2 linked regions of the Homo sapiens genome follow. The protein of the gene in region 1 binds, or shares a complex with, the protein of each later gene. Each region holds a gene or a part of one and is shown in the gene's direction. Other genes may lie near its edges. The genes, in order: AAK1 and PDLIM5.

Evidence for each region.
Region 2: the proteins of AAK1 (region 1) and PDLIM5 are in contact, whole or in part, in a crystal structure (PDB 9F6S), measured with the Homo sapiens proteins. Residues at the interface, in NP_055726.4 of Homo sapiens: Asp956, Leu958, Ile959, Asp960, Leu961; in NP_006448.5 of Homo sapiens: Ala12, Pro13, Trp14, Gly15, Phe16, Arg17, Leu18, Phe24, Gln67, Ile70, Lys71.

The regions. Positions count from the first base shown.
Region 1 is NC_000002.12:69,502,871-69,519,020, reverse strand, and holds part of AAK1 (AP2-associated protein kinase 1), read left to right. Parts: coding exon 1-67; intron 68-1,974; exon of another isoform or gene 1,975-2,270; intron 2,271-4,271; coding exon 4,272-4,550; intron 4,551-9,557; coding exon of another isoform or gene 9,558-9,560; coding exon 9,561-9,790; intron 9,791-11,442; coding exon 11,443-11,600; intron 11,601-13,347; coding exon 13,348-13,452; intron 13,453-16,150.
Region 2 is NC_000004.12:94,445,025-94,461,035, forward strand, and holds the start of PDLIM5 (PDZ and LIM domain protein 5), read left to right. Parts: upstream 1-6,917; 5' UTR 6,918-6,971; intron 6,972-10,222; 5' UTR 10,223-10,264; coding exon 10,265-10,360; intron 10,361-10,794; exon of another isoform or gene 10,795-11,219; coding exon of another isoform or gene 11,220-11,534; exon of another isoform or gene 11,535-12,160; intron 12,161-16,011. UniProt on the Homo sapiens protein: May play an important role in the heart development by scaffolding PKC to the Z-disk region. May play a role in the regulation of cardiomyocyte expansion. Isoforms lacking the LIM domains may negatively modulate the scaffolding activity of isoform 1.

The DNA.
Region 1 (16,150 bases):
GCCACCGCCAGCACAGCAGCAGCCGGCAGGCACGTTTTACCAGCAGCAGCAGGCCCAGACTCAGCAGGTAAGGTGGTCAGAGTGTGGCCCTTGCTTGCATATCTGAGTCATGACTGTGAAAAGGCCCACTAGGTAAAGGTGTCTTCCCAGAGAGCCATTAAACATTACATCACTGTTTCTCATAGATGTAGATACTAAAGCATTGAGAAGCGGATCCATCACTCACACCCCTTTCACCCTTTTACTCAGGCCATGAGGAATCTGTCATCTGATTGAGGAACATCAGTACAAGAGCTATTTTTTTGGCCGGGTGCAGTGGCTCGCGCCTGTAATCCCAGCACTTTGGGAGGCCGAGACAGGTGGATCACGAGGTCAAGAGATCGAGACCATCCTGGCCAACATGGTGAAACCCTGTCTCTACTAAAAATACAAAAATTAGCTGGGCATGGTGGCGCAAGCCTGTCGTCCCAGCTACTTGGGAAGCTGAGGCAGAAGAATCGCTTGAACCCAGGAGGCAGAGGTTCAGTGAGCCGAGATCGTGCCATTGCACTCCAGCCTGGGCAACAAGAGCAAGACTCTGTCTCAAAAAAAAAAAAAAAAAAAAAAAAACTATTTTTTTTTAAGGACTGCTTTTTTTTCTTCTTTTTTCTAATACAACTGTAACACCATTATCATAAGAGAGGAAAAAATAACAATAGTTTCTTATTATCAAATATCCATTAGTGTTTAACTGTTTCTGATATCTCATAATTAAGTTGGCTTGTTTGAATCAGTATCCAATACTAACAGATTGTATTTAGTTGGTCTATATTGTTTTCCATTATCTTTTCATATATTTTTTTCACATTTTTTACTATGAATGTATTCATTTTATAATGATGAGTATATCTGTTTTTTTGGAGGTATGGTCTTGCTCTGTTTCCCAGGCTGGAGTGAAGTGGTGCAGTTATAGCTCACTGCAGCCTCCAGTTCCTGGGCTCAAGTGATCATCCCAGCTGAGTCTCTCAAGTAGCTAGGACTATAAGCATGTGCCACCATGCCTGGCTAATTTTTATTGGTAGAAATGGGGGTCTCGTTATTTTGCCCAGGCTGGTCTCAAACTCCCGGCCTCAAGCCATCCTCCCACCTCAGCCTCCCAAATCATCGGAATTACACACATTAGCCTATGCGGCTGCTGGCTGATATATCTTTTAAGTCCCCTTTTATCCATAGGTTCCCTCTCCTCTTTTTTTTTTTTTTTTTGCTTTTTGTCATTTAATTTTTCGGAGAAACTGGATTATTTGTCCCTTGGAATTTTTGGCATTCTGGGTTTAGCTGATTGCATGCTATGGTGTCATTTGATGTGTCTGACCGTCTTCCGTGTACACTGGTAATTTCTCGAGGCTTACTCAGTATTTGATTCAGTTTGACAATTCTTTGTTCTTCCTGTTGCATCATGTCAGGAGGTCTGTAATGTCTCTCTGGCCTCTATTTCACTGATATTAAGATCAGGGAGCGTGTACTTTCAGATTTCCCTGAAGACTGCGTTTCCCAAAAATATTTTTAAAAAAAGGAAGAAAAAAAGATCAATCGGTGTATTGAGGTGTTGTCTGTCTGATCCATTTGTTTAATGTTCCCCATTAGCTTAGCAGGTATCACTGATCATTTGCCAAGTTCCTTAATTCATCAGGGATGGCACAGTGATATTCTAACATTCCCTCTTCATTTGAGGGCTGGACGTTTTCCATGAAGAAATTTTTTCATCAGCTCTTTAGCTACCCTGAGGTACTGTTTGTACAGAAAAGGCAGGAAAAACACTTGATTCTTTCCTTTTGTTTACTGGTTTTCAGAGTAATAAATTTGTTCCCTCTTGTCATCCAAAGGTGAACAGTGACGTTTTTGTTTTGTTTAGTTTAGTTAGTATCATTAGGAATTCTTAGATTTTAACATATTTGATATCTTTGAATACATTGCTTTTTTTGTTTTGTTTTTACTAGAGGTGGGGCCTTGCTGTGTTGCCCAGGCTGGAGTGCAGTGGCTATTCACAAGCAGGATCCCACTACTAATCAGCCCTGGAGTTTTGACCTGCTCCGTTTCTAATCTGCGCTGGTTCAACCCTCCTTAGGCTACTGGTCCCCTGCTCCCGGGAGGTCCTCATACTGATGCTGACCTTAGTGCAGACACCCAACTAGCATAGCATACTACAACCCTTGACTTCCTGGGCTCAAGCGATCCTCCCGCCTCAGCCTTCCGAGTAGCTGGGACTACAGGTGCACACCACCATGCCTGGCATATTGCAGTTTTAAAAAATGTATTTATTTTAAAGCTCAGATTGCCCCAACTTTGGCCAGTGGAAGTCTCTTCAAATTGGCTCCTAAATCCTTTGAATGTAACTCCAGTGGTCTTTAATGATTTCCTTGCTATCTAGGATCATGCTGCCCTCTAGGATCATGCTGCCCTCAACTTGAAATCATCCATTTTTCTTAGGAGCTCTGTTTCTTTTTAGTGCAAATAATGTTTAGAAACCACAGTTTTGATGCTAGAAATACCATTTGCCTAATGGATTGCTTGTTGTTTCTAGGCCTTCTCAGTGGACAATTAGAAAATATATTTTGTTTTGTTTTGTTGGAGAATAGGCATTATGAATTCGGATTTATATTCCTAATTTGGATTTGTAATTACTGGATTTCTGTTTAACTTCTTGGATTTTGTTGTTTTTTTTTTTTTCTGGAAATCTTGATTCTTAACAGCATTAACATAGATAATTAATTGTTCTATCGTTTTAAGATAGCAATAACCATATGATTACTGAAAACAGTTTAAGATTTCCTTGCCCATTTTACCCTTAGAATGTTTAGCACATTATTTTCTGGCGCGTTCAGCTACCAATTTGATACACCGGTTTATATGCATTGTTTTGCTTTTGATTTTTAGTTATTGCTTTTTAAATTTTAGTTTAATTCTGTTTTGTGGATATGTGAAACATTTACATAGTTTCAGAGTTAAATCTGCAAAAGTCCATCCCCACCAACCCATATATAGTGGTATTGCTCATTCTTATTTACAACTTGAGAGTATTCTATTAGATATTTCCTTCAGGATATATCTATCATAAATATTTAATCAGCCAGTCTCCTGTTGATAGACATTTGGGTTGTTTCCAGTATTTTGCTGTTATAAGTAGGCAGCTATTTTTTTTTTTTGACATCTTCTAATTTGTTAACCCTTTAACTTTGCCCCAGTAGACAAACAGTATCCTCCCAATTGACTCTAATAACTACGTAAAGTATACGGGATGTTCAAAGATACAGTGTTGACCTTAGTTCATCAGCAGGCCCTTATTTTGAGCTCTGTTTGTGTATGTAGCACATAGCCCCTAACAGTGGGGATTAGAGAGACATATAAGAAGTGTGGGCCAGATACAGTGGCTCATGCTTGTAATCTCAGCATCTTCAGAGGCCGAAGCGGGAGGATTGCTTGAGCCCAGGAGGTCGAGACAGCCTGGGCAACATTGTGAGACTGTGTCTCTACAAAAAATAAGAAAAAAAATTAGCCAGGCATGGTAGTGTGCACCTGTGATACCAGGTACTTAGGAGGCTGAGGTGGAATGATCACTTGAGCCCAGGAGGTCAAGGGTGCAGTGAGCCGAGATTGCTTGCACCACTACATCCCAGCCTGGGCAACACAGCAAGACACTATCTCAAACAAACAAACAAAAGGAAGCGTCATAGAGCACACTGGCTATTTTGAATGTTTAAGGAAGTTTAATAAAAATGGAGCTCTTGGGAAATAATTTTTAGTAAGACTTGAGATGAGTCTTAATAGTTGAGTTAACATTTAGGTTATTCTTTTCAGTGTCATCATTGCTTCATCCTGTTCAGGTAGGGAAGCATTTTAATCTTGGCTACTTCAAATCCCTTTATAAGAAGGATTACCTCTATGATTAGGAGATCGTTTATTAGCTCCTGCTATACTCTAGCTTATGGAGTCACATGATGTTTAGTCAGATAGCTTCCCTTAGGCAAGGCCCAGAAACCCACTTGGAAGGCCAGTCTGTAGTGCAGGAGGCAGCCTGGTGCAATGGATGGAGCCTAGCAGTGTAAGGGACTGCTGCTGTGTTGTATTTTAATTCCCTGAGGTCTCTATCATGAGATTTTAGGCCTAGCCTCAAGACTTTTCTACTTGCCCTTGCCTTTGGCTTTAGCACTGGTCTTCATTGTTTTTGAGACATTTGTCTTTTGTGACTATTATTCTGGGACAGGCCCTTATTCATCTCCTCATTTCTTGCTCAGTTTCAGGCAGTACATCCAGCAACCCAGAAACCAGCAATTGCTCAGTTCCCTGTGGTGTCCCAAGGAGGCTCTCAACAGCAGCTAATGCAGAATTTCTACCAGCAGCAGCAGCAGCAGCAACAACAACAGCAACAGCAACAGCTGGCCACAGCCCTGCATCAACAACAGCTGATGACTCAGCAGGCTGCCTTGCAGCAAAAGCCCACTATGGCAGCAGGACAGCAGCCCCAGCCACAGCCAGCTGCAGCCCCACAGCCAGCCCCTGCCCAGGAGCCAGCGGTAAGAATCAACCAGAGCTCAGAGCACAAAAGCAGCAGAGGAATGTGCAGCGAGAGCTAGGGGAAGGGTGGGAAAGATGGCAGCAGCTGATGAGGGTCCAGGTTGCTTTCCCACCTGGGTGGTTCAATTATTTGATCTTTCCTTGATATATCCAAGAATAGTATGGATGTTCTATAGAAGATAGAGGTTTTTTTAAAAAAGGATTCTAGGCTACTGATGAAGAGCCTTCTTAATTTTTATCACTCTGAAACTAGGCTAGCAGGAAGATCTGTTCATCATCTCTGTCTGTGTCACTTTGAACAGTCAAGGACCTAGGCAGGATTAAAGCTAATCCCTTTCTCTTCTTCAAGGGGCAGTTTGATCCATTGTGCCCTTTCCAGGCCCTGGGTCCTCCATGTTGTGTTTATTCTTTGTCTTGGATGACATTACTAATCACATTATTTAAGTTTACCATGCAGCTCCCGTCAAGGGCCTGCTTACCTGAGACCATTCACCCTGGTGTAATCCCCCTGGGTACCAGAGCATCTGAGTATCCAGTCATTTGAGCCATCTTATCAATTTAGAAATTGGGCATGTCCACTTTTAGATATTGGCTGAGTATGGCATCAGAACCCCTCGTCTGATTGTCCTCTACAGTTTCAACACACACGGGCACATCATGCTTTGGCCTGTGATAAGTGGATTTTTTTCTGTACTCTTATTTTTCTGAGTGATAGTGATAGAAAATGTTATGGTGTTAGAAAAAGACATTTTGCATACCCAGCTGGTAGAGTGTCACAGCTACCCTGTTACTCCCAGGGAAGTCTAACTACTAGAGGAACAAAGGAAAAGTAAGAAGCCATCTTTCTGCTGGGCACAGTGGCCTCACGCCTGTAATCCCAGCACTTTGGGAGGCCGAGGCGGGCGGATCACAAGGTCAGGAGATCGAGACCATCCTGGCTAACGTGGTGAAACCACGTCTCTACTAAAAATACAAAAAAAAAATTAGCCGGGCGTGGTGGCAGGCACCTATAGTCCCAGCTACTCGGGAGGCTGAGGCAGGAGAATGGCGTGAACCCGGGAGGTGGAGCTTGCAGTGAGTGGAGATCATGCCACTGCACTCCAGCCTGGGCCACAGAGCAAGACTCCATCTCAAAAAAAAAAAAGAAACCATCTTTCTGAGGATTGATTTCTAATAGAGTTTTGTCTCCCATCTTAAACCAGAAAACCTACATCGCTTCGAAAGGAAGCAGTGCCGTAGATTGTCTTCTTTAAGTCTTAGCTAAGTGTGTGTTTAGTGTCTTTACACCTTCGTTTCTAAAACAACTCAGACTTCCTGCAGGCATGGAGTAGACAGTGAGTCTCTGTATTTTTAACAAGAGGTAAAGTTCCTCTTCTTCATGGAAAAAGAGTTTTTAAAAAAATTAGTACATGAGATAGCTAGAAGGGACCTTAATTATTCAGTTCAGCCTCCTCATTTTACAGAATTGGAAACTGAGGCATAGACTAGAAAGTGGTTGCCCAAGACATACGAACTGATGGTAGTGGAGCTGGGGCAAGAATCAAAGAATCCTGATCTGTGTTTAAGTTTAATTATAACAAATGCTCATCCAGGGTGATAAAATGATCAACTACTACTGACTACACTTCTTATGAGGTTCCCCTATGCTTCTCCTACACAAAAGTGTCTACTCCCTTGGGAATGAATTATGAACTTTCTCCGTGTTCTTTGGATGAAAAAACACTTTGAACACTTTGCTCTGGGATAGTTGGTTTTGGGGACAGAGAGGAAACAGAAATAGACCATGCTTTGGCCAGGAGCCATAGAGCTTCTCAGCTTTGACCCATCCTTGTCTCCGCTGACTCTTGGCAGGGCTAATCTAAAGAAGCAAGTGAATGAAGGTAAAGCGTACCCTGTAGCCATCTTAAAGCAATAATTAGCAAAGGGGAAATGGCCATTTGCCCTAGATGTTTATTGCAGTCTTATTAATAATAGCCCAGAGAATTTGGAAGCAACCTAAATTGCTGAGAAACCCAACTGTGCAGCCATTAAAAAGCACGGTTATAAAGTCTGTACAACAGTATGAAAAGAAATGCTCATGAGGTAATGTTAAAGGAATTGTGAAATTACGGAAAAACTATACACTTGAAAAGAGACTTAAAGTATAAGGTACCAAAAAGATAAGGATTGTATCTAGTTGTATTAGAGTGATGGAATAGAAGTCTGTTTTCTATATTCTTACATTTCTTGATGTGATTATACTCCTTTTATAATTACATTTTTAAAAAATCGTCAGCAAAATAGACATCTGAGTCTTTTTATTCCTTCTCCCGTGGTCTCTCTGTCCCTCCTCCCACTTTCCAATCCTGTTTGGATGGGATGGCATCATGGGGCAGAAAAGAGTCCTGAGCCACAGTCAGGAGACATGGGCTCTGCTTCCAGTTAACCCTGTGACCTTGAATGAGCATTTGGCCTCAGTGCAGGAGTTGAAATCTGCATTTTCTAAGGTCCCTTTAAACTCTCACATTCTTTGATTCTAAGTGGAAGTATAACTGTCTGCCAGGGTTGCTGGGAGGCGTAGCTGAACAGATACAAACCACTTAGTGTCTGTAGATTGCTGTTATAGGGCAAGGTGTCCTGAAGGAGGCATCTAATCTTCAGTGTGCTGCATCTGGAGAACAGAAGAGAAAAATGTTCTCCAAGTGGTAAGAAAACTATCCAACTCCTTTCCTTTATGCCATCAACCTCGAGACAAAACAACTTCGGATGTAAAATGCCCTGGAGATTTCACCATCCCTTCCCTCCAGTCCTTCATCTCAGAATAGAGTTGTCACTGGACTCTTCAAAATAAAGGGACCCAACAGTTTAGTATTCTTTTCAGATTAATGAATGTCTCATGAAATAAGCCCATTCAGTGTATCCTCAAAGCCCTCTGACCCCTATGTGTGGTAGTATTCAGCCAGCTGTTACAGGCACAACTCTGGACCCCCAGAGGAAGTTGTGGAGCTGGAGCTGTGGTTGTCTTCACAGAGCACTCTGCCTCTCCTTCAGCAGGGCAGCTTTGTTACCCTTCTAACCTCTGATTGATATTAGAACCTTATATTGTAACATTCAGCCTGTTGGTTAAGTGGATGGAATACTGACATGTGTACATAGTCTACCTTAATAAATTTTCCAAGTCCTGAGGACAAGATGAGGGCAGTCAATATCCCAAGCTAGAAGCATCCTGACCCAGGTAGCTGGATAGTCTAGTTTCCTTAAACTGTCTCAGGGCCTGCCTTTGTAGACACTGAGACTGCAGCTGAACTGAGTTGCAGCATGGAGCAGCAACTCTAATCTGAGAAGAGGGACTGGAGGGAAGGGATGGTGAAATACCTGGGGCATTTTATATCCAAAGTTATTTTATCTCTAGGTTGATAGTGTAAAGGAAAGGGGTTGGGTGGCTTTCTTAACATTTTTTGTTCATTTTCCTTGATATAGGTGACTTATGCTTAAGGACCACTCATGTGGTCACAAGGATATTCTCACCGGTATGTTGTTCTGTGGTGGCAGTTTGGCCTGTTTTGAAAATGGCCCACATCACAAGAGTCCTTGTATTATTAGCTCAGTCATCATCAGGACCTTTTTTTTCTTTCTTCTTCTTATATTCTCTGCCAGTTCTTCAATATTATGTCCAAACTGAAGATTGAAACAAGTTAATCCCACTAAACTAATGCTACATATTTTCTTAGGAGTTGCCACAGAAATAGGATCTTATATACCCATCCCATCAGTGAAATAAAGAGCCTTAACAACAAAACAAAAAAGGGAATGCTTATACATTCTTGATGGGAGTATAAGTTAGTTCAACCATTGTGGAAAGCAGTGTGGCGATTCTTCACAGAGCTAAAAAGAGAACTACTATTCAACCCAGCAATCCCATTACTGGGTGTATACTCAAAGGAATATAAATTGTTCTGCCATAAAGACACATGCATGTGTATGTTCATTGCAGCACTATTCATAACAGCAAAGACATGGGATCAACCTAAATGCCCATCAATGGGAGATTGGATAAAGAAAATGTGGTACATATATACCATGGAATACTATGCAGCCATAAAAAAGAAGGAGGATGGAGGCTTTGCAAGAACATGGTTGGAGCTGGAGGCCATTATCCTTAGCAAACTATTGGAGGAATAGAAAACCAAATAGCACATGCACTCACTTACAAATGAGAGCTACATGATGAGAACTCATGGACGCAAAGAGGGAAACAACAGACGCTGGGGCCTCCTTGAAGGTGGAGGGTGGGAGGAGGGAGAGGATCAGAAAAAATAACTCTTGTGTACTAGGCTTAGTACCTTGGTGACAAAATAATCTGTACAACAAACCCCCGTGACACGAGTTTGCCTGTTTACCTGTATAACAAACCTGCACATGTACCCCCGAACCTAAAATAAAAGTTCAAAACAAACGAGCAGTAACATTTATTAATCACAGTAGAATTTTCTCTGACTCACTCCCAACCTGTGGTCTCGCTATGGCAGAGAGTGAGGGATCTCTTAGCAGAAATCATTCAGCTTAAATGTGTTTCGCTGGAGATACGTCTTCATTGGCCTTTACCTGTAGTGATAGGATCTATTGCTTGCCCTTTGAAAGCATTCTGAATGAGTTTGTATGTGACTCCAGAAATAGAAAGTGGTCCTTTATGATAAATTCTAGATCTTTACAGCTGGAATAGCTTCTGCATTCTTATGCTTTGAGCTGAATATGGTTAACATATGGTTACCCTATATATTATCGCTGATAAAGATTGAAATTTATGTGTATCAGGCAAATACCATGTTGTTATCAGTCTCAAAGTTGCAGCACAGATTGTCAAAGCCTGGATTTTTCTTTCTGGGCATTATTGATAAACTTAGCCATGTGAGTTTCATGTTAGTGCTTATGTGGCATTTTTTGTTGTTGTTGTTACACTTATCTGTTTGTTTTTCCTTTAACTTTTTTTTTTAATTTAATGAAACACTTTCCGTCTCTCTTCCTAGCAGATTCAAGCCCCAGTAAGACAACAGCCAAAGGTTCAGACAACCCCACCTCCTGCCGTCCAGGGGCAGAAAGTTGGATCTCTCACTCCACCCTCATCCCCCAAAACCCAACGTGCTGGGCACAGGCGTATTCTCAGTGACGTAACCCACAGTGCAGTCTTTGGGGTCCCTGCCAGCAAATCAACCCAGCTGCTCCAGGCAGCTGCAGCTGAGGCCAGTCTCAATAAGTCCAAGTATGTGGTGCTTCCTCTTTGTTGTTCTTACCTCTGTGGGCAAAGTCTGCCTGCGGCTGTTAGTGTGTGATTCTTTGCATAAGTGTGTAGATGTGTGTAATGCAAATACAGTGGTGTGTACTTGTGTTTGTTTATTTTTCTGGTTTGTTTATTTTTCTGGCTCATTTCATCTTGCATGTACTTGTGTTTAATGAGCAGCTGTGAATTTGTCTTTAGTGCATGGGCCATACTAATCTTAAGAAATCTTTTCCTACTTGGCCCACTGTTCTCATTCTCTCACCTGTTCCATGCTCTACAGTGTGTTTTCTGAACTCTCGATCTGACCGAGTCTCTCCACGCTGAAAAGTCTTTCACTGGCTCCTCATGATAGCTGAGCACACTGCTTAACATAGCAGGGCCTGTTGTGTTTCACAGGCAGACTTGCCATTCTTCACCTTCCCGAGCCCTTTGTTCCTCCTGTGCCCTCTCCTGGGACTGCTATGCTCCTCCTTGCCCACCTAGGGAATGTTCATTTATTCATCAAGATCCATGTCAGAGGTTGACTTTTCCTTGACCCTTCCTCTGATATGATGTATAATTTTTGTCTGAACATTTTTTTGAGCTTATATGACATTGTGTTGTCGTTAATTATTTGTATGTCTGACCGAACTGGTTTGTGAGTTCTCCAAGACAATGACCATGTCTTAGTCAACCTTTGGAAATCCAGTGACTGGTTCTGTGCCTGACAAGTAGATTTTGATGAGTGTTGAGTAAATGCAGTTTCAGACCCTTAACTGTCTTAGAACCATACACTCTAAAGTTAAAATCTTTCAATGAAGTTAAGAGAGACTTTATAAGAAAATTATATAATGATACTTAGATGCACAAAGTAGTGGTAACTGTCTTTATTTCTTTTTAATTGTGATGGTGGCCCTTAACTCTATGCATGCTGGATCCTGAGAGATGAGAGGCAGCCTAAATAGACCTCTTTCCTGCCCTTCCAGAGGTCAGTTATTGTGGATGTTATGGTGGTCACCACAAGATACACAAGTCTAAGAACAGGTTGCTTTTAGATCCTGAACTGAAACAACTTGCAGATAAGACTGAAAACTTAAGCAAGAGATTAAGGAAGTAGTGGGAGGTAGTGAGTCATGAAGGAAAGGAGACATTCATTTCACAAAGTGGAATGGGTATCTGCGGAAATTCTTCAGGTGCTGTGGAAAGCCCTTTTAGGAAAACACTGTGGGCTGGATGCAGTGGCTCACGCCTGTAATCCTAGCACTTTGGGAGGCCAAGGCAGGTGGATCACCTGAGGTCAGGAGTTCAAGACCAGCCTGGCCAACATGTTGAAACCTTGTCTCTACTAAAAATACAAAAATTAGCCAGGCGTGGTGGCATGCGCCTGTAATCCCAGCTACTCGGGAGGCTGAGGCAGGAGAATCGCTTGAACCTGGGAGACGGAGGTTGCAGTGAGTCGAGATCACGCCATTGTGCTCCAACGTGGGTGAAAGAGCAAAACTCTGACTCAAAAAAAAAAAAAAAAATACTGTGGTGGAAAATGATGGTTTGACCCAGAAAATAATTTGATTCTGAAACAGAGAAAATAAGTTGACCCTTTTTGTTTTGTTCAACTTTTATATCTTTTTGTTTCGTGGGGGTGGGAACCTACCTAGGTCTGCAACCACCACTCCATCAGGCTCTCCTCGGACCTCTCAACAAAACGTTTATAATCCTTCAGAAGGGTCTACGTGGAATCCCTTTGATGACGATAATTTCTCCAAACTCACAGCTGAAGAACTGCTAAACAAGGACTTTGCCAAGCTTGGGGAAGGTGAGTAAGCTGTGTCTTTTTTTGTGCTTCTTGATTATAGATTCTCTGTGCTAAGAAATAACCAGGAATGAGAAAGAATCGTAACTCTAGAAGGGTATGCATGTGGAAACGTAGGCTTGGGCCTTTGCATAAGGCTTGATTTCAAAGTATGCATACAAGTCAGTTTTTATTTTTACCATGGGCCCTGAAGTCCTCATCTTCAGGAAATCCTGATCTATTGTGGGTGGTAGCAAGGAGAGTGTGATGCTTAGGGAAGAAACTTGTAGAAAAGGTTTGTGACATAGTCCAGGATAACAGCATCAGGCATGGTCCCTCCTTGGAGGAGTGTGATGGTTCTCTCATCCTAGGTTGGTTTACTGTCCCAGAAAGTTGCCACTGCTTGTCCATGAATGTGCCTTCACATGGACACTGAATCTTTCTTTCACTATAGTCAGAGTTCTGTATTACTGTACTACACAGAAAGATGATTAAATAAATAGAAGATATACTTCTGCCTGAAGAACAGTCTACTTTGGAAGGCAGGACACACACACACACACACACACACACACAGGCACATGCACACACTTTGGAACAAATTCTAATATGCATAATTCTAATAATTCTAATAATGTTAGAGAGTACTCTAATAAAAAGTACTCTCAATGTAGATAAGGGCGCAGGATAAAGGAATGATGAGAACCAATTGAGTGGTATGAACTATTGGCCAAACATTTTGGCTTTAACTATCATTTTATAGAAATCTTTTAAAACTCCAATCCAGGTGTGGTGGCTCACGCCCGTAACCCAGTACTTTGGGAGGCTGAGGCAAGAGAATCACTTGAGCCCAGGAGTTCAAGACCAGCCTGGGCAACATGCCAAGATCCTATCTCTACAAAAAATTTTAAAAATTAGCTGGGCATCCTGGCACACATCTGTAGTCCCAGCTACTTGGGAGGCTGAGGTGGAAGGATCACTTGAGCCCAAGAGGTCGAGGCTGCAGTGGGCTATGAATTTACCACTGCACTCTAGCCTGGGTGACAGAGTGAGACCCTGTCTGTTGAAAAAAATTCCTATTACTTTCTTGCTTTTTTAAACAGAAGATAGGGCATAGTACTTAACTTTTTTGGCAACTTTGTTTCATTGTTATGTATACCAGTTGTTATTCTGGACTGTAAATAGAAATACCTCTATAGACTACTGAAAATTGTAGTAGTTTTGTACCCAAATAACTAGCCCCTGAGTTTTAATAATTTCCTCTCCCTTTTCTTACTGTTCAGCTGTCAGCTTTCACATTAAGCTACTGTCATTATGCTTGTCCCTCATAACGTCTCATTATTGCCATCTCCACCACTCCCTCTTCTCATTTGCTCTCCTAAACTGCTTCCAACATGGAAAGCAGATCATCAAACTCATTAGAGCTGTATAAAGTGAATAGATTACAAGTGAGGGCGGGAGGCATTAAATGTGCAGTTCCGTAGTGTTAAGTACATTCACACTGTTGTGCAACCAACCAATCTCCAGAACGCTTTTCATTTTGCAAAACTGATGACATGCTCTCTTTTGATTCTTAACAATTTCCTTTTTTTTCTCAGCCGTTCTCTCAGTTATTGCAATGACTAGACAAGGACCTTTGAATGTGTCGCCATAATGCAGTAAAAGTAGTCAAGTCCAGAAGTCAGTTCAGAGAATGCCCCTTACCTCTGCCATGTGTGTGTGCCTCGCAAGATTCTGCTAGAATGAACTGAGTGGTGTTTTGTCTCTCCAGGCAAACATCCCGAGAAGCTTGGAGGCTCAGCTGAGAGTTTGATCCCAGGCTTTCAATCAACCCAAGGTGATGCTTTTGCTACGACCTCATTTTCTGCTGGAACTGGTTAGTATGGCAAATACCTGGAACGGGAGGTTCACTGTTGTTACCTTCACACTGTTTTTTACTCCACAGATAACTCTAGCATGCCAGTGAAATCCAAATCCTGGCAGTACCGTGTATATATATATATATGTTTTTCATGGTCTATTTAATTTAAAATTTACTTTTTTTTAATTCAAAAGCTTTCTGATCAAAAAGGGATAAAGATCTAGAACCACTTTGAATTAAAGTGGCAGGACAGTCTGGCAGTAATATGCAGGACTTGTTCTCTCTAGTCCACAGGCACGTCTTAAACAAATATTTCTAGATTTAAGAAACACCCAGTGTTCATTGCTTGTAATTTCTTAGGTTTCTGAGATTACTTGAAGAATTTTAAAAATTAAATATTCTGTTATAGCTAACACTCCTCTAAACTGTGTGTGTGTGTGTGTGTGTGGGTGTGTGTGCGCACACGCACGCACGCTGTTGGGGAGAAGGAGGGAGGTATTTTTTAATGAGACTTCTAAAAAAGGAGGGAGGTTTTTTTAAATGAGACTTTGTTAAAAGTATAGAAGCAATCATAAGAGACAAACTTTTCCCTTCTATTAATAAAAAATTATACATTTTGATTATATAAAAGTTAGTAATTTATAGAGAAGAAAGTTAAAATTCTCCATGACCTCACGACCAAGAGATAGTCTAGGGATACTATCTTGATATCTGTTAGAGGCATTTAACCTTTTGAGAGTCACAGATATCTTTGTGAATCTAATGAAAGTTATAGGTCTCCCTGACCAGAATACACATGACCACAATTTTATTTTTTGAGATGGAGTCTCGCTCTGTTGCCCAGGCTGGAGTGCAATGGCTCAATCTTGGCTCACTGCAACCGCCGCCTCCTGGGTTCAAGTGATTCTCCCGCCTCAGCCTCCAGAGTAGCTAGGATTACAGGCACCTGCCATCATGCCCAGCTAATTTTTGTATGTTTGTAGAGACGGGATGTCACCATGTTGGCCAGGCTGGTCTTGAACTCCTGATCTCAGGTGATCTGCCTGCCTTGGCCTCCAAAAGTGCTGGGATTACAGGCGTGAGCCACCATGCCCAGCCATATGACCACAATTTTGTACACTCTTTGGCCCCCTGCTTAAGACTCTGAGACTCTGATATGCATCTTTTTTTTTTTTTTTTTTTTTTTGAGATGGAGTCTCATTCTGTCGCCCAGGCTGGAGTGCAGTGGCACAGTCTCGGCTCACTGCAAACTCTGCCTCCCAGGTTCAAGCAATTCTCATGCCTCAAGCCTCTCAAGTAGCTAGGACTACCGGTGTATGCCACTATGGCCGGCTAATGTTTGTAGTTTTAGTAGAGATGGAGTTTCACCATGTTGGCCATGCTAGTCTCGAACTCCTGAGCTCAAGTGATCTGCCTGCTTCGGCCTCCCAAAGTGCTGGGATTACAGGCATGAGCTACCACACCCAACCTGATATGCATCTTTATAGTCATATTTTGAAGCCTAATTTTTTCACTTAATGAACCTGGCACATATCTCCTACATCATTAAAGAAGCTCCTAAAATATAATTTTTTTTTTTTTTTTTAGACGGAATTTCGCTCTTGTTGCCGGGGCTGGAGTGCAATGGTGCGATCTTGGCTCACTGCAACCTCCACCTTCCAGGTTCAAACGATTCTCCTGCCTCAGCCTCCCAAATAGCTGGGATCACAGGCATGTGCCACCATGCCCAGCTAATTTTGTTAAAGTATAATTTTTAAAAATTATTACAGGTGCGGTGGCTTACACCTGTAATCCCAGCACTTTGAGAGGCCGAGGTGGGCAGATCGCTTAAGGTCAAGAGTTTGAGACCAGCCTGGCCAACATGGTGAAACCTCATCTCTGCCAAAAAATACAAAAATTAGCCAGGCATGGTGGCGCACACCTGTAGCCCCAGCTACTCAGGTGGCTCAGGTGGGAGGATCCCTTGACCCCAGGAGGCAGAGGTTGCAGTGAGCTGAGGTCACAACACTGCTTTCTAGCCTGGGCAACAGCGTGAGATCCTGTCTCAAAAAAACAAAAACAAAAACAAAACTTCTAGGATACACCAGATGTATGATATATCCTAGTGTATTTAACCAATTGCATCTTTTTTAACATTAACTTTATTCCAGTATTTACTATTATAAACACTTCAGCAATGAATGTGAGCTTTTGAAAGTATTCTTTACAAGATGTAGAATTTGGCATGCTTCTAAAAGTGATCTTTTTAATTATACTGATTAGTATCTACTTTTAACCTTATCATATATTCTTTCTGCCTGCTTTCTTTAGGAATGTTAGTAGTTTTTCTAACCTCATAAATTTATTTCTGAATAGAATGTTGTCATTTAATAATATTTGATATGTAATACTCTCTTATTCTTATTATCTGGATATTTTTAAATAGAAGTTTCAATTTTTTCTTTAATCAAAAGTTACTCAGGTTATGTTTTCATTGCACTATGACCAATATGCCCTGTGCAGTCTTTGCTGTAAACTATACTGAAGGGCTGTCTGTGGCCCAGTTTGTTATTCATTTTTAAATGTCCTCTGGAAATTAGCAGTTTCCACGTCAATAAATATTAATCTACAATATGATTGTTCATGGAAGAATGGCAACATTTATTTAATATCCCCTTTTATGAATATTTACATTGTTACCAATTTTTCACCATATAAATATTCTTGAAGCTAA
Region 2 (16,011 bases), on another chromosome or scaffold:
ATATAAATGGATTTTAAAAACACTTAGTAGAGGTGCTATTTTTCGAGTGGAGAGATTTTCCTGTAAATAACGCATGTTAAGATTAGGTTTCTCCAAGGACCTTTCTAATCCAAAATGCCACTTACTTTAAGACCTCATTTGTACATTTGCCTTCTTAATAATTATGTCCTCAAAGCCCTGCTATTGATAGAAAGATCCATGGAAAAGCTTCAGAAATTCTAAATCCAGAAATGAGAAAGACTATCTAATGAATCAGCAAAGATTAGATCAGTAGTTCGGGACCAAAAACCAAACTGAGATTTAAAAGCCAATTAATGGCCAGGCGCACAGTGGCTCACGCTTGTAATCCCAGCACTTTGGGAGGCCAAGGCAGGCAGATCACGAGGTCAAGAGATCAAGACCATCCTGGCCAACGTGGCGAAACCCTGTCTCTACTAAAAATACAAAAATTAGCTGGGCTTGGTGGCACGTGTCTGTAATCCCAGCTACTTGGGAGGCTGAGGCAGGAGAATTGCTTGAACCTGGGAGGTGGAGGTTGCAGTGAGCTGAGATCGCCCCACTGCACTCCAGTCTGGTGGCAAGTGAGACTCCGTCTCAAAAAAAAAATTTTGTGATTCAGAATATTCACAGTTGGTACTAGCTCTTTTATTGGTTAGAAAGTTGATAATGCAAAAAAAAAAAAAGATATTTATTTCAAGATTTTAAATGATGGTGGGTTATACCATACCACTTTAATGAAAATGCTTCTAAAAAATAAAGTGTCTAATTTAAAAAGTCAGCAATTTAAAAAATCCAAAAAGCAAAAATTCCAATATTTTTCCAACATATGAATTTGCTTTTGACATCACTTATATCTTTGGTGCATGATAGACACTAAATAAGAGTGCATAGCATTTTAGTGATTTATGCAAAGGTGTTGATGATTAAAAGAGTCACCTATAATGTGTTAGTCAGGGTCTTGAGAGGAAATCGATGGTATACTCAAATGTGTTTAATTGAAAATAATTTAATAAAGGACTCTGTATAGTGGTATGAGCAGGGTGTCTTCTACTACTACCTTTTATAAGTAAGATCTTTCTAACTGAGCATTATCACAGTGAGCATTCTCCGTGTCCTTTTTTTTTTCACATTTTTCTTAACTCGTTAGTAGAAACATGGAAGGCATTATGATGAGTACATAAAGCTAATGATCTTTTCATTTATCTCTTTTTGGTATCCTAACACAGTGCTTCTCAACTCTTTTCACATCAAGGCAAACTTGGAAACTGGGGAAATGGATGAGGCTTCCAATTCCAGTATGCCCCACCTCCCAGGTTGAGAAGATTAATTTCTTGGCACAATCAACTAATTGGGAAATTCTGCTCCAGGTCCATTTCTTACTTTAATGTTCTTAAAATAGAGTAGTCCCCCCTTATCCATGTTTTCACTTTCTGCAGTTTCAGTTACTCATAGTCAACTGCAGTCCAAAAATATTCCATGGAAAAATTCCATTAGAAAAATTCATGTTTTAAATTGCATGCTGTTCTGCGTAGTGTGATGAAATCTCACACCGTCCTGCTCCATCCCACCCAGGACATGAATCATTCCTTTGTCCAGCATATTCATGCTGCATATACTACCCACCCTGTTAGTCACTTAGCAGCCATCTTGGTTATTAGTTCTACTGTCCCTGTATGGCAGTGCTTATGTTCAAGTAATCCTTATTTTACTTAATAGTGGCCCCAAAGCATAAAAGTAGTGATGCTGGTATTTCGGACATGCCAAAGAGAAACCATAAATCACTTCCTTTGAGTGAAAAGGTGAAAGTTCTTGACTTAATAAGGAAATAAAAAAATTGTATGCTGAAGTTACTAAGATCTATGGTAAGAATGAATCTTCTATCCATGAAATAGTGAATGAAAAAGAAATTCATGCATAGTATATGTAGGGTTAGGTATTATTCTGGTTTCAGGCATCTACGAGGGGTCTTGAAATGTACCTTCTGAATATAATGGAGTAGTTACTGTAATGTCTTCATATAACATATTTTTACAATTATTGACCCACATGTTAGTTTCCATCTCATCTCCAAAATCGCTCCTACATATTCTCTATCCTCTCAACCACTCACCGGACTCCTCAGTGAACTGACTTTATCTGAGTAAAACATCAGACTGACTGAACCTTGATCTTATCATGAGGAATATTCCTCTACTTCTGAAATCTCAAGTTTGGGACTCTCTGATACCTTTTTTCAGTGTCCATCCTATCTATCCTTCTTATTTTTACCCCTCACTAACCAACCAATTGCCTTTTTTTTTCCTTACTAGAAACTGCCAGTAAAATGCATAGTTCCTTGCTCCTCTCCATTCAGTCAATATCAGTTATGAATACCACCCACCAAACTGAGACTTGAATCCCTGAGGCTAGTTTAAACTTTGCCTTCTTCCTCAATTACACATTTTCTCAGTTACCCTAGGCTTCACGGATCTGCTCTTACAGTCTTTCTTTTCCATTATTCCTTTCCACTCTCTCCATGCCTGATTTAGTTCTGCCCTTCTCCCAGGATTCTTTAGTAAACTTTAGAATGACACTGTGCCTTCTATCTTTTCTCCCTAAATTACCAAATGTTTCTTTAGTTATTAGAATAGTTAATGCTTCTTTTCCATTCTAGATTTTAAAATTTAAATGCTCATGAGTGGTTTATTTACCTTCCAGGATTAGGACTTAAAAGATAAATTGACTCAGTAATATAGGAACTTTTAAAAGACTGGCACTTCATAGTTTATTGGGTGCAACTGTAAAAACTTGTCACAGCCATGTCATGTTGTAATTAAGTTTCTGTTATTTTTGAAGTGCTACAAGAGGTTCTGAGTCATAGATTGGATAATAAAATGTTAGAGAAAACATTTATATGCTTAGGTAAATACTGTGTTTAGAGGGACTATTCTTAAAAACTCTTCCTGCTAAGTAAGTTAATCTTTTGATCTCTTTCTCCCCCACCCCCCAACCCAGCTTTTCTTTCCCTGATTATGATAAAATGAAGCTTTTAATATGTTTTCCTTTGTGGTCAGTGCCTCATTACTTAGCCCTATAGAGTTAATGAGGCCAAGGACATTGGTTTGATTTCCCAATGGACCAGTAACTTCTGATCGTCTGTAGTCACAGGCTGTCCTTCAGACCATGGCCAACCATTTCATAAATGTTAGTGATGAGGGAAACAGACAAGGGGAGTCAGAATGGCCCCGTGGCAATTCATTATAAAACAAGTTAAGGCATATGTCCTCCTGAAGTGGCTCAGGAGTTTCATCTTCCCTCATATACAAATTACTCAGCAGTTATTTTATTTCCATAATTTGCTATGGCTTACACCTCTATGGCCCTCAGCAGTGTTAGTTTCGAAAGCATTCCATCTTCCTCAGGTCTTTGGTCTGGATGGCTTACTGAATTTACCAAGAGACAGTGTGTTGCGATGAAAGTAACATGGTTTTTGGAATCAGACCTTTTGCTCTACTACCATCACTGATTAGCTGTGGGCGTGTGCCCTAGGTTAAATGTCTTAATCTCCAAGTTTCTATTTCTTCCTCTGAAAAAAGTCTACTTTATATGGTTGTAAGAATTAAGTAGAATAATGTACATAGGGCACCAAGAACATAGTACTTGGATAATGAAAGTCAAAGTTCTCTACTTGTTTTTTATGATACACAAATAAATCTAATCAATTGGTTAGGAAAGTTTTCATATGGCTACCATTTATTTAATCCTTACTTGGTGCGAAGCATGCTGTGTAATGTTTTATATATATTATCTCTATTCCTCATGATAATCTCACAAGGTTATTTACAATGATCATTTCCTTTAAGATGAGGAAACAGATAAGTTGCTACCATCTGGAATGCATGGTTCTTAACTGAGCACAGTGCACATTAAACCGGAGACATAGCACTATCTCTAGGGAAGTAGTTTTTAAGCACTGCAGTTTAATAATTACCTGGAGGTGGGGAGGGAGTGTTTGTTAAAAAGATTCCAAGGGCTCACCTACAAGGATTCTGAGTCCAGAGGGGATCCAGGAAAATGCAATTTTAACAAGCTATCCGTGTCATTTTGATGCAATCGGTCCTTTTTAGGACACTTGGATAAATATCAGTCTATGCAAGACAACTTAATTTGGTTAATTTACTCTGTAGCCCAGGATTTAAACTGCAGTAGTAGGAGGAGGTTCAGAGACAGGCTAGCAATTATGGGGTAAAGTGGAATTTGCATAAGTAAGCAACAGTCTGCCCATTCTCAACTCTTCCTCATCACCTCAAGAAGCTTATCCTCTAGTGATAACTCCATAGGCTATCTGCAGTTGATGTCTTTAAATTAATCTTTGTTGATCCAGGATCAATTTAACTGTATCAACAGCAAACAGATGAGAAGGGGCAGAGTTGGGACTCCTAGAGGTTAACTCGAGCCATGGCCCTGTGGAACTGGCAGAAGCTGTAATTGCTTGCGACCTATTATCTATAAATGAGGATGACATTCATTTTATAAAGTTCTTGTAAGGACTACCACACTGCATAGCACATGGTAGGTATTTGCTAATGGTAGCTATTGTTATTTTTTTTTTATTTTTGGGTGAGATGTCAAACATGATAACATATATTAGACTCTCTAAACCAGCTTTCACACTAGGAAACACTTTCCCCCAAAGCCATCTTTTGAAAAATGTGGTGAAAGCTATGGACTGGTGCTGTCCAATGAAAATATAATGTGAAGCACATATGTAATTTTATTTATTTATTTTTTTAGAAACAGGGTCTTCCTTTGTCACCCAGGCTGGAGTGCAAAGACAAGATCATAGTTCACTGCAGCCTCGAACTTCTGGGCTCAGCAATACAAATAGCTGGGACCTGGGACTACAGGCACACTACACGACGCCCAGCTAATTTTTTGGATTTTTTTAGAGATGGGTCTTGCTATGTTGCCTAGGTTAACCTCAAACTCCTGCCCTCAAGCCATCTTCTCACCTCAGCCTCCCAAGTGCTAGGATTATAGGTGTCAGCCACTGCACCCTGCTCACGTAAGTAATTTTAAATTATCTAGTGGCCACATTTTTTTTAAAAAGTGAAATTAATTTTAATCAAATATTATTATTATTACTCTTTTTTTTTTGGTGCGGAGTCTTGCTCTGTCGCCCAGGCTGGAGGGCAGTGGCATGGTCTCGGCTCACTGCAACCTCTACCTCCCGGGTTCAAGTGATTCTCCTGCCTCAGCCTCCCAAGTAGCTGGGATAACAGGCATGCGCCACCACACCCGGCTAATTTTTGTATTTTTAGTAGAGACGGGGTTTCGCCATGTTGGCCAGGCTGATCTTGAACTACTGACCTCAGGTGACCCACCCGCTTCAGCCTCCCAAAGTGCTGGGATTATAGGCGTGAGCCGTCGCGCCCGGCCATAATCATGTATCATTTAACAAAACATAAAATATGATGATTTCAGCATATAATCAATATAAAAATTATTGAGGCATTTTACATTATTTTTTCATACCAAGTCGTCGAAATCCAGTGTGCATTTTACACTTCCAACGCATTTCAATTTGGGCATTATATTTTCAACTTTAGTCCTTAAATGTAGTGCTTAAAAGAAATGTTAACGACCTGGCGCGGTGGCTCATGCCCGTAATCCCAGCACTTTGCGGGGCCGAGGCGGGTTGGTCACCTGAGGTCAGGAGTTCGAGATCAGGCTGGCCAACATGGTGAAACCCCATCTCTACTAAAAATACAAAAAATTAGCCGGGCGTGGTGGCGCACGCCTGTAATCCCAGCTACTCAGGAGGCTGAGGCAGGGGAATCGCTTGAACCCGGGAGGTGGAGGTTGCAGTGAGCCGAGATTGCACCACTGATCCCAGCCTGGGAGACAGAGCAAGAATCCGTCTCAAAGAAAAAAAAAGTAAAGAAATGTTATCCTGCTTCAGTTTTAAATGTTAAATTATTTAAAATTACGTAAAACAAAAAATTCATGGTCTCAGTTACAGTAGCCACATTTCAACTGTTCGATAGCCACATGTGGCCAGTGGCTACCGTTAGGGAAAGAGCAGCTTTGGATCTTCGCCTTTGGAATTTTGCTTGCACTTCTGGGGGCCGGGGAGCTCACGGACCTCATGAAGTTCATCCTTGCTTTATATGCTCCTTGGTTAAGAATTGTCCTTTTCACGTTTTATAAGCCAATTCACAGTGTAACAGTCTAGTTACTTTCCGTATGTTCAGTGAACATTATTCACGTTTTCTTATGAATAAATTCCTCGGGCGTATCAAGCAACCCTATAGAAGGCTGGAAAGTGGACTATTGATTTGGATTTAGAAAAATAAACTGAAGATACAGTGGTTGAATCACTTTTGGCCGCTTTTATGTATCACTGTCTTCTGGTGTGATGGACAGGGTTAACTTCTGTTAGGGTTACTGGTTTTCACCTTCCTGACAGGTAAACTTCTGGGTCTGCACTTTTCAGAGCATGTAAAGCTCTTTCAAAAAAAAAAACGCAGGCAGTAACCGCTGAACTTGCATAGATAGAGATTTATCCAAAGTACCCTTCTATTTTTAGGCAGAGCAACTGCTTGCCAATTTAAATTTCTGGAGAGAAAAATGCACCCACTACAAAACGGACGAGCGGAGGGTTAGACCTTTGCCAGGTAGCGCTCAAAATCCGCTAAGACTACTCCCACCGAAACTCGGTAGCGCAGTTGTCTTTCCGCAGCTGCTTCAGCCAGCCCCAGCAAGCCCGAGCGCCCGGCGCCGCCGCCACCTTCCCCGCCCCTGCGCGGCGCGGCTGGGACTGGCCCAGAGGCGTGGCCGGGAGCGGAGGGGCGTGTCCTGGGTCGGGGGTGGGGCGAGGGAGAGCCAGGAGGCGGAAGTTCCCGCGGGCGGTGGGGACGGCGCCCTCACCGCGAGTCACTTGTCAGCCCTTGTCTGAGGCGGAGGCAGCCCCGCGCCGCGCCGGACCCGAGGTGAGTGGCGGCCGGCCGGCGATGCGCCTCTCGGATCTCCGGTGGGAGAAGGGAAAGAACCGGCCGCTGTGCGCCGAACGCGAGAAGGGAAGCCCGGTTGGGGACGAGGAGGGGGCGCTCCTCGGGCAGGGATGGCTCCTCAGGTGCTTTCTGGGCGCGGAGCGGCGGAGGTGGGAGAGCAGCTTGGGAAAAGGAGCGCCCGGAAAAGGGCAGCGCTGGAGTCCGCATGAGGCCAGAGGGCGAGCCCTGGGGTCCCCGCAGCCCGGGCCGACCGGGACCAGCGTAGCGGAGACGGGGACGCGGGAGGGCGCCCGGAGGTGGCGAGGGCCGGCAGGGACGGGCACTGCCGCTCCCACCCACCCGGCTGCCGGCGTCGCCCGGCACCACCGTGGTGTGGTGTCTGAGTGCCCAGTCCTGCGCCAGTCTCTTGGAGGGTAGGAAGCGGGACTCAAAGGAAAAGGCGCGTTAGTTTTTCTTTGCTCCCAGGCTACTGAGAAGCATTTATTTCTCCCCCAGATATTTACAGTTTTGTGTAACCTGTTTGGGGAAAACTTCTGCGCGTCCAGAAATAAAGCTCGTTTAAGAAACACATTTGTCATGAACACGAGATTTGTTAACACTTGAGTACTTGTTGGGGCTTTTGTAAGACTGTGCCTTCGGTGCGTTTTACAATAAGTGGAAAAAGGAAGGGCGTGTGGACAGGGCAGAGCTTGGAAGGAAAATTCGTGGCGGCGCTGGGCAGGGCAGATTTAGGGTGTGATCGCCAGATCCTATCCCAAGTCCGCCTTCCTGACGGGGAGGACGTCTGAACCCGCCTGCCACGGAAACGGCCCGTTCGGTAGCCTTATTTGGCCAACAAGGCTAGGCGCGAATCCCTCCTGGAAAACTGTCCTGTCGGCTGCTTTCATCCTGTGCCTGTGGCTTTAGTTCTTCAGCTCTACCTACATTCTCTCTCCATTGCGGGGAAAGAGAATCTCAAGATATTTCTCTTTAATTTCAGGCCTTTTTTTTTGTCACTCTGTGTAGTTCATCTTGAGTTCTCCTTTCTCCCCTCTCACCCACTAATGAAGCTGAGATACAAGTGTGGGAAATACCAAGCTTCCTTCCCTAGTACTAGAGCAAAGACATTGTTTAGACTTTCCCTAAAAGAAAATCCATAACTCTACAGAAATTCCAACCTTTTCGACGTGTTTGAAAGAGTATGCTGCTATTTCCTGCCTGCTTGGTATTTGAGGAAGGGCTTGGGCACTAATAACCAGATGGAGGAGTCTTGGAAAGGCCAATAAAAATATTGCCATTGCTTGGGGCAGAGACTGTTTTAAGGCAGATGAATTCCAAATGAAGCTAGCAGAAGAAGCATCTAGAAATGAACGGACAGTGACTAGAAATGAAATGACACTGGTTTTGTAGTGTGGCTGTGACCTTGCCAGTGCTAGGAATTTTAATAACAAATGAGAGAAGTTAGGAAGGGAATCCCCAAGTAAAGGGAAGTTGCAAGTACATGGGTTGATAATCTAAATGAAATACATTTTCTTGTAGGGAAGAATGGGGCCAGAGGAAGTTGAGCCCAACTTTCATATTATTCCCCAGACACAAGTTAAAGATTAATAAAGGAGGGCAGGCTGCCTGTGAAATATCAGTTGGCTTTACACGATTCTGATTTGTATCGTGTCAATATCAGGACAGTCCTTCTATTAGTTTTCTGAAAATCTCCTCCTTTTATAGCGGGAAAGCAATTGAATTATGTGTGGCTCGTTATTAGCTTCCCACTAGTAGTTTTTCACCTATATATACAGTTTGACTTCCGGCTTGGCCTTTGGATCTTTTTTAGTGCTCTGTGCCTATTACTTCATTACTGAAGTAATGTGTTATTGCCTTGTAGTTCAGTATACTACCACGCCAGTAGAAAAGCTGTTTCGGTTTCTGATACAATTTTCTGTAATTTTTATTTTCCCTGATATAATTTTTCTTTAAAAACCAGGCTTATTTGAATGTTTTGCCCCATTTTCCCTTTATGAGAAGAAGGAATGTTTGCTTTAAATATACCTATGGCTCAAATATCTATATCTGCAACTATGAATTTGGGGTGATGGGCTAGAAATTTTGAATGGGTTAAAACATATTTTAAGACAGGTAATATTAGGTGGTGATTTGGTTGAATAGCTTACATTTTCCAAGGAAGTATGTTTTTAATATAAAATTACATATCTGTTATGTTTTTAATATTTTTTAAAGAGAGAGAATTATTGTTTCTTAGTATTCCATTAAAACAAAAGAAAACTTCATTCCTCTGTCTCCTGCCGTTATAACAACCAATAGGAAACTCGAAGTTTTTTTTTTTTTTTTTGCTTTTTAAAAATTATATGAAAGTACTACTAGGAGAGTCATCACACGCACACTTAACAGCAGAACAGACAAAAGAAAGCACCGAAGCACTGGTTCTTTTCTAAACTGCCAATTCCATTTGAATGCATTAACCCAGCACTTTTGCTGTATTTAGTCATAATCTTATTCACTGAGTGGCAAATGCTTACTCTCTGCCTGGTGAGGTGTGTGTATAAAACAAAAAGCAGGTTGTGACTAACATCACTGTACTAGAGTATTGCCTATCGTTGACTATCTGAAGGAAAAGTAGATATCACTTTAAGTGTGGAAAATACCATGTCCCCATAGGAGGAAATACAAGTTGTAGTTCATGATTGGAGAGAATAGTTTTGTGCATTGAAAAACAGCTTCTCATTGTAAAGAATTTAGTATTTGGAAAGCATGAATGGGAGCCTACTGATTTGCAGTCTCTTTCACATGTTAGAGTAACTTAGAATTTAAGTAAGTGCAGTTGAAAGACTCTTGTCAATTGCAGACAAAAGAATACATGAAGTGGAGGGAAGGAGAAAATTATTCTGAATTCAACCTGAAATAAAATCTTGCTACATTAGTGAAGTATTGTAAAGTACTTTGAGTTAAACTTTGCATGCAAGAAGCCACAAAATTGGATTGAAGCAAGTTGTGAAACATACTAAGTGTCTAGAAATGTATTCTGATATGGAATTTTTAGACCATGGAAATTGCCATGAGTGTAGAAAATTTATATTAGCTCACAGATTGCTTTTCTTAAACTGAAATTAATGAAGAACTTAATTAAGACTTATCTTCTATATCCTCTCACCCCCCTCAAACAAAATACTAAACATAATTTATGTTCTAGGGTTTCAAGTAAACATTTTTGCTAATCATCTGATTTTCTTTCACAGCATATTTCATTTTCTGTCATTGGACTTTGAGCCATTAGAACCATGAGCAACTACAGTGTGTCACTGGTTGGCCCAGCTCCTTGGGGTTTCCGGCTGCAGGGCGGTAAGGATTTCAACATGCCTCTGACAATCTCTAGTGTAAGTAAACTTTACAAATTTTATTATAGATGTTCATTCAGTGCTTAGTCCTCGGGCTGAGTTGTTTAATTCTCTGTTGACCTGTACTCTACTTATTATCATTGCTCCTGGGATTTGATCTTGGCAAATTTGATTATCTATAATAAAGGATGAGGGGAGTAGATTTAGCAAGGATAACTGACTTCAATTTAACTTCTTTTCGTTTTCCCCCATGTTATCAATAATAAAATGGAAAAAGCATTTAACTAGGAACAGACTGTACATTTTTGAACTGTCCCTAATTTGGGGAATTCTCTGAATCTTCGTTCTTTCATATATAATTTTCAAAGGTTGTGCTATGGGATTTTAATAATCTCTTTCAGTTCCAAAAGCTGTTTGTTAAAAACTGTTGATCAAAATTGAATAAAATGATTGTTTCGGAATTATTTCCTCAGCTCACTTTCTGGTGGAGGTGATAGCCAACAGTAAGATGGCCAAAAGCTACTTACCCTTGAAGAGGAAATGAAGGGCTTGGAGCTCCAACTAGATAGCCTATGAATAATTGAGATTTGGCTTTTTACCTCATTATGGATTTAGTTTGAATGTATTCTGTGTATATATTTTAAGGATATGTTTTCATGATGATGATGATAGCACTGATGAGAGGAGTAATTAAAGCTTCTATTTATTGAGACTTGACTATATGTCAGGTACTGTTTCACTTTCATCACCAGTAGGTAATTATTACTATTATATAAGTTTCTAAAAGGTTTGTTTTTGCATATTCAAATAAATATGAATTTCCATCTTCTTTTACTCAAATGGTGGCATATTATACACACAGTTTTTTTTGAGACAGAGTTTTGTTCTTGTTGCCCAGGCTGGAGTGCAGTGGCGCAATCTCGGCTCACCACAACCTCCATCTCCCGAGTTCAAGCGATTCTCCTGCCTCAGCCTCCCGAGTAGCTGGGATTACAGGCATGTGCCACCACGCCTGGCTAATTTTGTATTTTTAGTAGAGACCAAGTTTCCCTATGTTGGTCAGGCTGGTCTTGAACTCCCGACCTCAGGTGATCTGCCCACCTCGGCCTCCCAAAGTGCTAAGATTACAGGCGTGAGCCACCGTGCCTGGCCCACACTGTTTTATACTTTGCTTTTTTTTGCAACAATTTACCCTGAGATCATTCTCTATTAATATATAAGGAGGTATGTGTGTTTTTTTAAAACAATTGTATAATTTTATTTTATAAGGAAAGTGACATTTAACCAATCCCCTACTGAAGAGTATTTGTGGCATTTCCATATTACTGTTACAGTGGTACAGTGAATACCAAATATAAGTACATACATATATATGTGAATATATGTATCTACGTCATTTTGAAAGGTTGTGCCAATTTACACTTTTGTGCAACGCATGAAAATACTATTTTTGTGCCAGTCTTACCAACAAACTTGGATATTTATCAAGTGCTGTGAATGCATCATCTCATTTAATTATCATACCAACATGCAAAATAGTGATATTATTCCCATTGTATATAACTGTGCTGTGCGCTCACATGACTGTATGGAAGAGCTGGCTTTCCAACAGTTATGCTGTGCTGCCTCTTTAATAATTCACTTTACCTTAAATTTAGTTAGTTGTTTCTTTAATCAGATATTTAGAAGATTGTCATTTTGGTTAATAATATATGTGTATGTATAAATATATATACACACACATACTCTGCATCTTGTATGTGTATCCAACTTCATTTTGAAAGATTAAAAATAAGTTTGTAACGCCTAAATATCCTTATTAAAATACTGCAAATCCCATTTTACTAACGGAGTCTCCTTTGTTTCTTGGCTGTGGATTTTTTTAAAGTTATCTTTAATTTATCATCAATTTCTGCCTTGATTTCAGTTAATTAGATTTTATAAGGAAGTATATATATGTAATCCAGCCTGCAAGTTTTAACACCTTTCATGGTTAGATGAAATTTTAAATGTAAAGCATCCATGTGAAAATGTGTCATGTGATTTATTCCTGTTTGAGTGAGTTGGTATTTTATTTCTTCTACTGATGATCTATTATGGGAACAGGAGCAATCTTTGAGTATTATTGGTTTTTACGTTTTGTTAGCATTTTATATTTTAAATATTCTACTTTAATTATCTAAAGAAAGTTATTAGTTTAAATGCTTACTTTTTTGCTGAAAAAAAGTTCAGAAACAAATTGACACCTAAATGAGCCAAACTTAATTATCACTTTGTTGTGTGGTAATAGAAATGCAAATAGAGTATGTTTGCGAATTTTGTGGTACCGTGTCTTTAAAAAAGTTTCATGTGCTTCAGTTTCCTGGCAGACAGTTTGAGGTACTAGCTCCATGTTGTGATGCTGATACAACAGAACACTGTGTACATACATATGTGCCCTCCCCTGGCACAGAAGAAATGCTTTCCTTGTGTAGACAGAGTGCTAATTAAAGGATTTTGAACATACTGATTAAAAGAGACTATGGTAACAAAGCTGCTGAGTTATTTCTGTTCTCTTACAAAAGTCTCTGCCATCTACTGTGACCTTTTTGGGCCTTGTGCAGTGGGGCATGCAATTCATTCTGGACTGGAGAGGATTGGAAGGGGAGGGGAAGGAGAGAAGGGAATGTTGGCTCAATCGGGCTGCTAGGCTCTTGGCCTTTCATTGTAGTTATTTTTAACCCCTTGTGTGGTTTAAATATGCCTAGTAACATTGCCTAATAAAGGTTTGCGTTTAATAACTAATTTATATTGTGGTAAGATTGTTAATGTTATAAATTTTTAACTTACTCTCATCTTAATTAGTTCTTTGGTTATACTTTTTCTGCCTTAATTATGTAAAATTACTGGGATATTACTGGTCATCAGGTTCTTTAATTAATAGTATCAAGAAACAATTAAAACCTGAAAGCATGCTTAAAACATGTAATTTAATGATTCACTTACTTTAATAATGCACATGAAATTCTTAGCAAGGTCTGGCAGTCTCTCAATTATCTTTTATAATAATATTATAAACTTTAAAAAGAAAACTATTTAGAGACTTGAAACATTAAATATTTAACCCCCGTAGTTGTAGGGAACATACAGTTATGGTTTTGTTTTGTTTTTTTAAACTTATTGTCCACTGAAATTAAGAAAGGAAAAAAAATCAGAAGTTTGTACTTAGCTGGGAATCTGCATCTTTAGAGTTCAAAACTGTGCAATTTTTCCTCTGATTAGGTATTATTATGTTGAACTCCAAAGGGTCATTTACATTCCTTTATAACACTGGAGCTCTGGTGTATCGAATTGTGTTATGAGATAAGCCACTAGCAGGGACTTGAACATTCCATTTTCTTTAGATTTTGTTGTATCAGCATGTGAATATGCTGAATACAACTTGTATCCTAAAGCATACAAGCTATAACATTTTCACGTTGGACTCAAATTTCTTCATCATCTGTATTGTATGAATTTTGTATACTGTTTTGTTGGTGGATTTCTAACATAAGATTGCCAGTTCCTGCTAGCTTTTTAAAAAGATCCTCAGGTTGCTGTAGCTGGATGATCACATGTCATTTAATTTCCGATCCTTAAAATGGAGTGCGGGCTACCTAAGTTTGCAGGCTGTCTTTTTATGATCCTGTGTTTATGGAATTGCCCTGAAGCCATGGAATGTGAGGATGGGTTTCATTGTAGCAGTGTGGGTTTGTTGGTTTTTGCCAGTATATTTTATAACAAGAAATAGGAGACTTGTTGGATAATTCAAGGCTATATTTTGGCCAGTTGATAAAGATTATATATTTGTGAGTAACATCTTTTAAGTTGTTATATCCTAAAGTTGAAATACTCTGCTGTGTGTTACTTTCTCATTATGTTTGGGCTCTTTTCTTCACTGTCAATATTTGGATTACCTGAAGATGATATCCCAATTCTCTGTAAACACATTTTAGATGTTTCTTTAAGAGATAAGAATTAGGTCAAACTTTTTAACATCTAAATAACAATGACTTTGATTCTCAAGAGTTAGGGGAGGATAAATTGTTATAAGCTTGGACAAAATTCTAATTGGATTTGAAAAGCAGAAGAAACTTACTATTGCTTGGATTATGGAGCCCTGTTTGGGAGTCTAACACAGAACAGAGAAGGACAGAATTGTGAAACACTTTGCTATGAATTCATTGATTCAGTAGTTATAGTAATACTTCCTAGAAGCCACTGAAGAAGATACAAAGTGGGGAGTACAAAGGTTGGATGGAAAAGAAATAAGCACAGTGCTATAGAACTAGACAGTGTCGTAAGACCTGTCACAAGTCAATATTCTATGAAATGACAGATTCTGATAAGTGTTTCTCAGTTTCAGTGGGTGTAAATCTTTTGTTTGTGGGGGTTGGTTTCCTTTAGGAGAAGTTAATTGAACTGATCCTCAAAGGATGAAATTTAAACACCTCAAAGTCAGCATTTCTCCGTGTTGTCCAGTGCCTAGTGAAGATGAAGACTTTTCTTGCCATTGCTTGACTCCAAGTAAAGCTGTGAATGTAGTTGAGCGATTCTCCAGACCTGCCAGCTGCAGTTTCCCTCCTACCGGAAGACAGAAAGACTTTCAGTCCTCAAGCTGAAATGAGAGAGCCATCCTACCTTGAATAAATGGGCCCATTGTTAATTTTAAGCTCTTGAGTATTTTCTTTTATATTCCCTCCAAGCTACCCTGTCATTATGCCAAGTTAGAAAATTAATTTAGTTTGTATAACTATATGATGTATATTTCACATGTGTGTTCACTCTGCTTTAAAAATATTAATTACCTTTTGTGTGAAGTTCAGAGACCTGTCTTTTCCCATGTGGCAGTTTTATATGTTTTGTGGTCACAAATGTCAGGAATCTCAATGTAATTCTGGATAAATTTTTCTGCTCTATGATTTGTAAAGAAATGAAAATCTTATATTTTTTAATTGAAAATTAGTAGTTTTAGAAAAAAACGCACTTATTTGATTTTAGTAAACGTTGGGCATTTTGAAAAGTTATTCAGAGAAATGTTACTGGTAGGCAGGACTTTTGTATCTGATGGAGGAAACCGATGTAGGGTTTGGATAAAATAAGACTAGCAGGCTGGGCACAGTGGCTCACTCCTGTAGTCTCAGCATTTTGGGAGGACAAGGTGGGAGGATCACTTGATACCAAGAGTTCAAGGTTACAGTGGGCTGTAGTCATGCCACTGTACTCCAGTCTGTGCCACAGAACCAGACCCTGTCTCAAAAAAAAAAAAGAAAAAAAAAAAGGTAAGAATAGCACTTTAGACCTTGGGAAAGAACGTTTTCATGTAACTATTCATCTACTCGTGAGTTAGGTATATCTACCTACTTAAACTAAGAATAGATAGATAATAGATAATGTACAGCTGTATATTGGAATGACTTGGATTTAAATCTTAGCTGGAAAATCAGTTCATTAATTTGAGCTTCTGATTTTCTTTGATGTATGGGAAATGCTTTATAAATTAAAAAGTATACAGGTAGATTTGATTATTATTAATAATTTGGAGCCTGTGAGCTTTCAATTTTTTTTAGAACTTCTGAGGCAAAGAGCTTTTCTTTATGATAGTTGCTAGTCACACTACATGTGAATACACAGTTGAACAGTGGTCTTTGTCTATGACATCCTGTTAGCAG